Regions from separate parts of the Homo sapiens genome. Here region 1 is linked to region 2. Evidence: fine-mapped expression QTL. Tissue or cell type: whole blood. Region 2 holds a variant in brackets; the other region holds the start of a gene. All regions are shown on one strand. Distances are between the middles of the regions.

Region 1 (5,127 bases), 37 kb before region 2:
ACTAAGTATAGAAGAGCTACCTGCCAACTAGAAAAACCCACTTTGTATTCTTATAAAAAATAAACTCCTATAGTGTTTGAGTAATAATACACTTTTTTGAGTGTTGATTTACAAGAGCTATTTAATCTACCCTAATTAATATATTATTGAAAGATACTACCAAATGCTGAGTGTTCTGGCCTTCTTCCCTCCTCAGCCTCAGGAAACTGGCAGCAAGGCTTTTCTCACACAGATAAGATACTGGAAGTTTCCCTTCCCTAACACTGACTACACAGATAAATAACTTGCAGATAACAGTTTGGGGGGAGGGGATACAGCCTTCAGTGAAATACCCAGGTCAGATCACCTCACAGTGAAGCCCACTATTTGAAGAGATTCACCTGTGCTTACAGTGCTTTTAACATGTTTTTCTCACTCCAAAATATATTTTTAATGTAAACATCAATAAACGCAGGAAGGAAAGTGTATTTTGAGGGAGTGGTATGAAGAAACCTAAATCCTAAATATCCAAGTCAATAGCTAGAATCCTGACCACTTTTAGAATTCCACTAGCACCTTTATTCGTATCTTACTTTATTTTTCTTTATATTATTTGACAATCCCTGATATATTTACTCTTCCTTTTTTTATCTGTTTCCTCCATCCTGGATGTTCCAAGAGGACGGGACTTTGAATTTTGCTCAATTCTGTACCCCAGTTTCTGGAAAAGTGCCTGGAACATGGAAGGAATTTAGTAAATATCTGTTGAATAAGTAAATGGATTGGCAATTACAGGGTTTAAAAAAAAAGGTCTAAGAAAATAATTTACTCATATAGATCCAGTCCTGATACAAATGATTTTTTTAGTCTTGCATGGTTACAAATAGATGTCTCTCTTCTAGAAAAACTGAGGCAACCCTTCCGAAATAACTAATTTTAAAAAGTCTCCCTTCCTTTGAACAGACAATTCCAAAGCTCTTCCACAAGGCACAACCAATACAACCCAGGTCATGGCCCTGCAATCCCTCCCTAGTCCTCATGATGTAAGCAATATTACATTAATGTTTACAATAATGTAATTATTAGCAAGAATAATGTAAACATTAATATAGATTACTGTAAATTAATAGTGTAATTAATTACTGTAAATTAACATAAGCATTATTAGATGCAGGAAGACAAGTGAATTTGGGGGCAGTGGCATCTATGAGACATAAATCCTCATCTGCCACAGAAGGAAGTCAACACATACTATCCATAACTGAAAATGCAATAAACAGCAGAAAACACTACTTACTTAAAAATACAGAAACAAGCATTAAATGAAACAGCTTGAAATGTTGAAGGTGGTTACTCTGGGAACCAACACTCCCGGACTGGGAGGACTAGACCAGGGTATGTTTAACTTTGACTTTTTCATTTCAGGCTCGATGCTGCCATTTCTCTGAGCTCGTGGAAAATTTAATCTAAATCTTAATTAGGAGCCTTCTAAGATGGAGAACACATTCATTGCAGAGAGGTCAGGCTCAAATACACGTCTATCACAACATCTAAAACTTAACTCGGAAAAAACCTCCACGATTTTAAATACAAAGCACTGCACATGCACGCACTCAACACCTCTCCTTCTTTCCCCATGGTCAACACACCCACAACCCCTGCACATTTACCAATCTACACAACTGAGCACTGGAGCGAATGAGGTGAGTGAGGGCCCAGAAAGTTGAAGCAGGAACGATCCGAGCCTTCAGTTAATCCTAACGTCACCTCTAACGTTTGGGGTAAGAACGTTTCAGGAAACCAAGGGGGAACCAACGCTCAGCACAGCAGAGAAAGACACCAAGCTACGGGACCCGCCGCGCCTCCCGCGCCGGGGTGGAGCTGACCCCGCCGAGCCCCGCCCCAGCCTGCGTCTGCCAATGATCCAGGAGCCGCTCCTTTCCACTCGGGAAACCTTCAGAGGAGTCTCAGAAAGGACACGGCTGGCTGCTTTTCTCAGCGCCGAAGCCGCGCCATGCTCGTCCTCAGAAGCGCCCTGACTCGGGCGCTGGCCTCACGGACGCTGGCGCCTCAGGTACCGGCCACGGGGGTACCCAAGCCTTCACCCGACGGGAGGGGAGGGGCGGGGCGGGGAGTGTTCCGGGTACGTGCGAGCAATGCGCATGCGCTCTCCGCCACGCGCGCCCAGACCTGGGGCCCCGGTGAGGTTCTAGCGTGAGCCCCGGAACCCCAAGACAGGGGTACCCGGAACGCGCGTGAGGAGGAGGCCGCTGCTAGGGGAATACCCCCAGCCGGGGTCGTCTCGCGGGCAGTGGTGGTCAGAAGGCTTTTCTAGCCTGGATGCCACACCCACCGGGACACTCCCATGGCGCCGGCTGTTTCGTTTTTGCTGCCCAGCTATGTCGCGGCTGCGGCCCAGCGAGCGCTCCCATGTTGTCACCTGGCGCTGTGGAGCCGCGGGTGGAGTCGTAGCTTTCCAAGCCACCGCCCTCTCTAGACATCAGGTTGAAGGAGGGAATTGTCAACCAGCCGCTTGCCACGGAACCGGCCTCCCCCTTTTAAATGAAGCACACAACTTCCGAGCATTTCGCGGAGACCCTTGAAGAGGAGGCCCAGGGTCCCGGTGGGGCTGGACCCTGCCCGCCACCCGCGCTTCGTGTGGTCGCTCCCCCAACCAGGCGGGACCGGAGCCTCCTATCAAACCGGACGATGACAGACAGACTCTTTTAACCTTAGATGAGAAATGGACAAAATGGAGCTTGTGATTCTGCCCTAACTTTCGGGAGTGGCCTATTCTGTGGCTTCAACCTAGAAATTTCTTTTCCTTTTGATGTTTAGGACTTTACTCCTTTCTGAAGGGGCAGGATGGGAAGGGGATTAACCTGTCCTAGAGACAGACTGAGGAGCACTAAAGAAGAGCAGCTCATGTCCATTCACCCCGGGTTAACAATGCAGTTTTTACCCTAATGATTCTCCAGTGGGGCAGGGCCAGGAATGACGTCCTTATGGCATGATTCCAAACTTTAAGTTTTTAGAAATGTCCATCAGTTGTTCTCTTTTAAGTGAAGTGGAGGTCGTTGCTGGTGGGAATGATCCCTAACTTGGAGATAAGGGAGGATGGACGACTCATGATTTCTGCCCTAGCAGCTAAAAGTCATCCCTGCAACAAAATTCTTAACTCCCATCCGGCTCCCCCACCATACCCGGCTCCCCTGCAGTCTTCCTTCTCTGGCACCACCTGTCCACATCTCTCTCCCTCTCTCACTGTAGGTTCCCTACTGTATATTAATACTGCCCAAAATTGTAAAAATGTGTACCTTTGATCAACTATTTTATCCTCCAAATACAAATTCCTCGAATCAACCTGAAATCCATTTGTCACAAATGCCCCATTGGCCTATCTCCTGATATATTTTATTATAATAATTTTGAAATTATGGATACTAGGCACTTGCTTCTTGACCAACATTGTTACTAGAGTTTGGTTTAAAAGCACAAAAAGAGTGTCCACAAAAGGCAGGGGCAGCTGCAGCTGTTTTTGTTGGTAGGCTTAGTCATTTGAGCAATAAGAATATAAGTCACACACGAATAGAATTAACTCTAGATAATTATCATTAAGCCTTATCATACACAGTTACATAATTTTGTATTTTGTAAACAAAAATATGTCGGAGCAAAAGCCTACTGCTTTCAGACAGACATACTGGCTAGTCAGTATAAGCCCTAATTTGTCCATAGCTTTGTAGGTATCAAAACTGTCTTCACAGATTATTCTGGTGTAATCAACTTAAGGAAATGGCACATGCTATTCAAACTTAAGTAAGATGGATTTATAAGAATATCACGAATGCCTGTGTGTATACCATGAGTGCATATATATATGTGTGTGTGCGTATGTGTGTGTGTATGTGTATACATATATACACATAGATACCTACATAGAGGATAATCTTAGGCGAGGTATTTCTTACAGAAAGTTCAACCAGAACACAAATTAGAAATTTACAGTGCGTGTATGACTATTACAAAAGGAATTAATGGTTCTTAAGTGATATTTTCATCAATGTGGTATAAGTGGATTCATTAAATGTTGTTCACATTGCATCTGTAATTAGAAACTAATAAGAAAATTTTGACTCTGAATTTTCTTTTCTCAGCATTCATGTTCTACCATTATATTACAATGCAATTGGATAGGTCAGAGCTTTTTATTGCATTAGTTACATTCCAGTCCTAATTTTGGTCAGTGGTTTACTTCATTGAATTAGGAAATACTTTGACCTGAACTGTAATTTCCATTTTTTTCAAGAACCTAAAAGAGTTTTCTTCTAGTAAACATTTTTTTCATTATGCCTGCCAAAAGTTACGTGCGTAGTTAATAAAGTTCTTTGATGTGCATAACTGTAACACGTATGCTCTTGACTAAAGATGCAATATTGGCTAATAGGAAAACTTTTGTAAATTTGTTAGAATCCTAATTGTAGTTCTTGGATAAAGAAGTATCATTAAGATCTCAGCGCCTTCTTATGAGCAATTTCTGAAAAAGTGGCTAAAGGTGACAGTGAACCCCCACTAGGAAACAGTAACTACACACTCAGCATATTTAAGAGTAGTTGTCTTTATTGACACCTCTATGTAAACAAATGTATATGTGAAGCAGGAGAATAGGGTCTTGAGGCAGGGAACCTAAGGACTTCCTAGAACTAAATCAAACCCTTCAGCTATGACAAGAAATACCCTCTTCATTTACATAGGGTGTACACAGAGTAAATGACTTTGCAACTTTACTTCATCCTCTTCATTTATATACGGCTTACACCACATAGCCAATGGGACACCTCTAGAGGGTACTGAAACCCTAGAAAATTCTGTAACCAGGGCCCTTGAGCCACTTGCTCAGGCCCACTCCTACCCTGTGGAGTGTGCTTTCATTTTCAATAGATCTCTGCTTTTGTTACTTCATTCTTTCCTTGCTTTGTGCATTTTGTCCAGTTCTTTGTTCAAACACCAAGAACCTGGACACCCTCCATCAGTAACATATTGAGAATTGACAACAGAAGTACAAACATGAGTAATGAGTCTATGAGTGTCCCTTGTACCAGATTCAGATTAGGTTTTAACACAATATAATGAATCCTGTCTTCTCAA
Region 2 (5,186 bases):
TAAGACTGGGTTAGAAAACTCTGAAAAATGCTCCATATGGAAGTATTTGTTGTTTTTATATTTTTCTTGACTAGTGATTGAAGAGATGAAAAATTTGAGACTGTCAGATTTAATGGGGTATCCAATATCTGCAAAGCCAATTATTTGAAGGTACTAAATGCCATAAACACAAGTTGTGTTTTTCAGCAAGTTTTCAAGCTAGCTGTTTTCCCTGTTGAAGAATTCATTGTTTAGACTTGTGACCCTTATACTTTCTTGGCTTTTGCATTGTTGCAATTAAAAAAAAAAAAAAAAAGGCTGCCCAGTATTGTTACAGTGGGCTCCTACAACCACAAGACAACCTATATTTGTAAACCAGTGAGCTGAATAACATGGCACAGGAAGTGTACTGAGACTTAATATCTCTCTAGTCTTATACGTACGTACATACTCTTTCAGCTACAGCATACACTCAAAAAATATTTGATTGATGAAGTGAGATTAAGAGTATCCTAAATGATCTGAAAGAAACTCAAATATAATGTCATGAGATCCTGACCATCACATTGCTTTCTAGGCACTAGTCATGACTGATATGCAAACTTACATAAGAAAATAAAAATAGTGGGGCAGTGGCCATACTCCTCTATACCACAGGGTTCTACAAAGAGGCCATTCTAAGGATTCAGAAGTCACTGATAGAACTTAAAATTCCAAATAACATTAAAAAGTACAAACATTTTTGTCAAAATACAACTCCATCTTTTCATTTTCTAGATTAATTCAAAAAGCCAGAAATAATACACTTGTGTCAGATAAACATCTTGAGATGCAGTGTACCATGTTAGCAGACAGTCAGGACAAATGGGCACAGGCTTCCCTAGGTTTGAACGCACAATCTCTTTAATCCCATGCCCTGGCTTCAGCAGCTTGCAGCCCCAGCAGTTTGGCTGTTGATTCTTTGCCTCTTACCAGGATCTAAGTATATTTAAGAGTCTCATAAGGATGACCCTGTAGACCCATGGCTCGAAGCATAGGACAATATAACAATGGAACCAAGTTTCCCGTGCCTGGAGACACCCACATTTTTGTTGCATGTTACTGCCACCAGAACAGCTTATCAGAGGGAATCAAAGCAGGATGTTAGCCACGCATGGCACCATTCTGTCAACTGATATTCAATGTTGATAGACTCTGAGCAGAGCAGCTTTCACAAAAGTGAGCATGACACACCATGGTGCTTCAAACTTTCTGAAAAACTTGGCACTAATAACTCTGGCACACTCATTGCCAGCAATGGATGTGTCACCGGGAAACCAGTCTCCTGGGCATGGCATGGCTTAGTGAATGAGGATGTGCATTACCTTTTGATTTTGATCAATAATCGCTGGCCATGATTACTTGATGAATTATTGTTGCAACCCCAATGAGAATACACAGGAACAAAAAAAAAAAAAAAAGTGTGAGTTCAAACCCATATGTCCATTGGGTTCCATAATAGAGTTTCACATAGGTATAGGTAAAAAACTAAATTCAAGTCTTTCACTTGAGAGCCATACAAGACATAGGCTACAAAGGCACTGCCCCTGTAATGGAATTTTGTTTTCATTGCATTGAATTGCATTGCATTGAATAGTATCAGTACAGTATCCAGTTTACTTCTTCCCACATCAACTTCTGGCTCTTTTCTCCACAACACTTCACATGGTGCAAAGGAAAGTCTAGTTCCTCTTTACTTTCAGCCACCCCGTATGAACAGGATTCTTCATACATAGCTTTCTTTCACTTTCTCATCCTGTAGAAAAGATGTGAGAACTGCAACGTCCACTACTGTCTGGTTTTTGTGTAATGAGAGGTCTTTTAAGTGGTCATCATCACTTTGGTCCTTGGCAAAGTTCACAAATACCTGTTAAAAGATTAAGATGGACCTTTATAAATACCACTCAACTTGCTCATTCTTTATTCTAGTTCTATTTTTCCAGATGTTGAAATTAGGTCAAGTAGGAGCATACAGAATTACATAAATGGATTAACTAGAAAACTGTGTGTGAAGGAGGGAAGAATACTTGA[A/G]AAAAGCAATAACAACTTAAAAATAGACTTTTTTTCCCCCCTTGAAATGGGGTCTTGCTCTGTCCCCAGGCTGGAGTGCAGTGGCGAGACCTTGGCTCACTGTAACCTCCACCTCCTGGGTTCGAGCAATTCTCCTGCCTCAGCCTCGCAAGTAGCTGGGACTACAAGTGCGCACCACCATGCCCAGCTAATTTTTGTATTTTTAGTAGAGACGGGGTTTCACCCTGTTGGCCAGGATTATCTGGATCTCCTGACCTCATGATCTGCCTGCTCCTCAGCCTCCCAAAGTGCTGGGATTACAGGCATGAGCCACCACGCCCGGCCAAAAACTGACTTTCTATATCGCCCCCCACCCCTACATCACCAACTGCTCAGTCATCCATTTACTTTGGCACATACGGTCTTGATTAAAGGGAAGAGGGAAGAAAATATTTACTGAGTACTTCTTAAGTGTCAGGACCTATTTGGTACTTTTTTATCTAATTTAAATAGGATTAGGCACCAAGTAAAATGCCTGGCCCATGGTAGGTGCTCACTAAATGGTAGTTTTTATGGTTATTATTACAGTAAATTCTCACAATAATCCTATAGAGTACATAGGCATCATCTCCCTTTTCAGGTTCAGAGAGGTTTAGTAAAAAGCATAGCTAGGAATAGTAGATCAGGAATTCAAGCACCAATTCAAGATACAAACTGCTCTTGGACCTATGGGCGGGAGTGTCGGGGCAGGAATCCACACCCTGAGAAGTAAATCTGTTTTGACACTCAAAGCTTACTTGGTCAAGTGTTGTCTGAGAAACAGAGTAGTCTTCTATGTGGAGTCGCTTTTTGCTCTGGGAGAGGATGCTGAATATCCTGGCCAGAGAAGATAATGAAGATGGAAGCTGGTATTGTAGCATGTTCCGGTGTTTCTCTTTTAGAACACTTCCAGGAAATGCAAGTCCAAAGAAATCCTGGACAGGCTTCAGGTCCGGGTTGGACCCTGCTATTCGTACAACTATTGTATAACCATCTCCAAACCTGAAAGCAGGAAAAAATACCCAAATGGAGGATCTCCAGAAAACTATTTAAAAGAATACTGAACCCTGGGAACCCAACTTGTGCCATGAAAAAGGGCGGCCCCTGGCAGGCCCAGAAATAAGTTTCTGAGAGAAGGAACCAGTTATCATTTACTAAATACTTATTTTATGTGAAGCACCATGCCATGTGCTGTAAATACATGATCTCCTTTAATCCTCACCTGGACCCATGAAGTCTGACAGATGTTACAGAGAAACTGAGGCCCAGGGAGTTAGTCACTTGCCCATGGCTCAGAGCTCATAATTGGTAGGGCCAGGATGCAAACCCATTTGTGTTTGACTCCAAAGCTTGCGCTCTCACCAGTACTGGCACATGTAAATTTTTTTCATTTCATCTATAGCACAAAGCTAGGAGGTAGATCTTCCAGGGAAACTAACTCTTACAGTAGTTAAGTCACTTGCCCAAGAGTCACAGAACCAGTAAATGGTAAAGACAGAATTTGAATGCAGTTCGGACTTCAAAGCCCTCATTCTTTCCACTATACTGTTTTGCTCAGTTTTATTTCCCTTTATGTTAGAGGCACCATTTATATACTCACAAAAGAATAAATATCAAGCCTTCTCACTAGGCACTATCCCAAAGAAATTATCTTTATTACCTATTTTTTAGATGCTGGACACTGCCAAGGCACCTGAACCTTCCATTGACCATGATTGCCATCCTAGTGCAAAGAGCTTCACATTCTTCCATACTGCGGTAAAACAGAAAGAGGTTTTAGTTTTAGAGAGATTCTCTGTAACCATGAGAACATCACCATGACTTCCAGCATTCCAGCTTCCTAGGGAATTGTATTCTGTTACAAGTACATGTGGATATAGGGATGATGCTGTTCAGTGTAGTGGTGTTTACAATTGTGAACAAGTTGGAAATAATCCAAATGTCTACAAAAGGGGGAATAGTTAAATAAGAGTATATCCTAATGGAATACTATCCAGCTATAAGAAATGACACCTAAATGCACTGACTTGGAATAATGTTTACAATATATTAAGTGAAAAAGAGCAGTATTTATACTGGGCTTGCATTTTTGTAAGAATATGCATATATAATTTCAGGTAATAATTGTTTTACTCTTTGCTTTTCTGTATTTTCTAATTTTTACAAAATGATCGCATATTCTACTTGGAAAGTTAAAACATCCCACAGTGAGGAACCCAAGACTTTACTACGGACCTATGAGATGTAAGCACTACTGATCTCCCCTCCTTGACAACACTTAGGGCACAATTCCACAAGAACCGCCGGGCTTTGGGATCCATGCCTGTGGTGGGTTCATCCTGTAATTAGAATAAAATAAGTCTTATTTGCTGGGGGGAAAAAAAATCAAAGATAAATTTGTTTTTAAATGCAGAAGCATCTTTGAAACAGCTTAAATTTTAACTTGCCATTCTAGTTATTTCTTGATGAATCAAAGAATTAGAGTAACTTTCAAATTCATTTGTAAACAAGGTCATTATTATAAATGTCTTATTGATGCAGGAAACTCAAATATTCTGAGTACTTTTTTATGTAATTAAATTTCTCCAAATAAATAGGGAAGGAAAAAGGCCATTTAGTTGTAATTATCTTTTCATGACTGATAAGTATATACAAAACAACTTTTTGTCTGAAACCTCTATTGAAGTCAGTATAAGATTGGGGTGAAATTCCTTTTTTTTTTTAATTCCAGCTCACTCAGATTACCCTAGTATATTGCAACTGTTAGCCTTACAGAAACAAATTCCAGACCGAGGTGGAATACATAAAAGCCTCAAAGGCTTCTTCCCGTAATAACATCAATGCTCTTATCTACAGAAGAAAAAAGGTCAAGGGCCACTTCCCAGTCTGATCTGTTTTTCATCTATCCGTGTGTAAGGAACTATGACCTAGTTGCTACCTTGGGGATTTTAAAGCTGTGTCCACACTCTTCATTTTCAGGGAATGAACACAAAGATGATTAGAAAGAATGTTCCAGAGAAAGATCAAATCACATATCCAGCCTCAATCACGCTAAGAAACAAAGTGCTTGGAGTGCCTCTATTTGGGAGCATCTGCAGGCATGGTACAGCCACCCCAGT

Evidence for each region. PIP is the estimated chance that this variant, and not a neighbour inherited with it, causes the effect.
Region 1: it holds the start of NIPSNAP3A, and the variant in region 2 is fine-mapped to the expression of NIPSNAP3A in whole blood (TOPMed, PIP above 0.99).

The regions. Positions count from the first base shown.
Region 1 is chr9:104,745,800-104,750,926 of GRCh38, forward strand. It overlaps NIPSNAP3A (nipsnap homolog 3A), which reads left to right and starts at 1,884. Exons shown (of 6, transcript NM_015469.3): 1 at 1,884-2,053. The coding sequence starts at 1,994. LOC107987105 (a long non-coding RNA gene) reads right to left here and starts at 1,840. Exons shown (of 5, transcript XR_007061705.1): 1 at 1,650-1,840. RefSeq lists a silencer at 1,778-1,867 and an enhancer at 2,288-2,447.
Region 2 is chr9:104,782,571-104,787,756 of GRCh38, forward strand. It overlaps ABCA1 (ATP binding cassette subfamily A member 1), which reads right to left. Exons shown (of 50, transcript NM_005502.4): 47 at 4,303-4,406; 48 at 3,728-3,820; 49 at 2,826-3,069; 50 at 1-1,885. The coding sequence ends at 1,745. It also overlaps a transcript of NIPSNAP3B not described here. Among named protein-coding and RNA genes, the nearest start is that of NIPSNAP3B, 21 kb to the left of the region's middle. The variant A/G (reference allele first, on the strand shown) is at 2,050.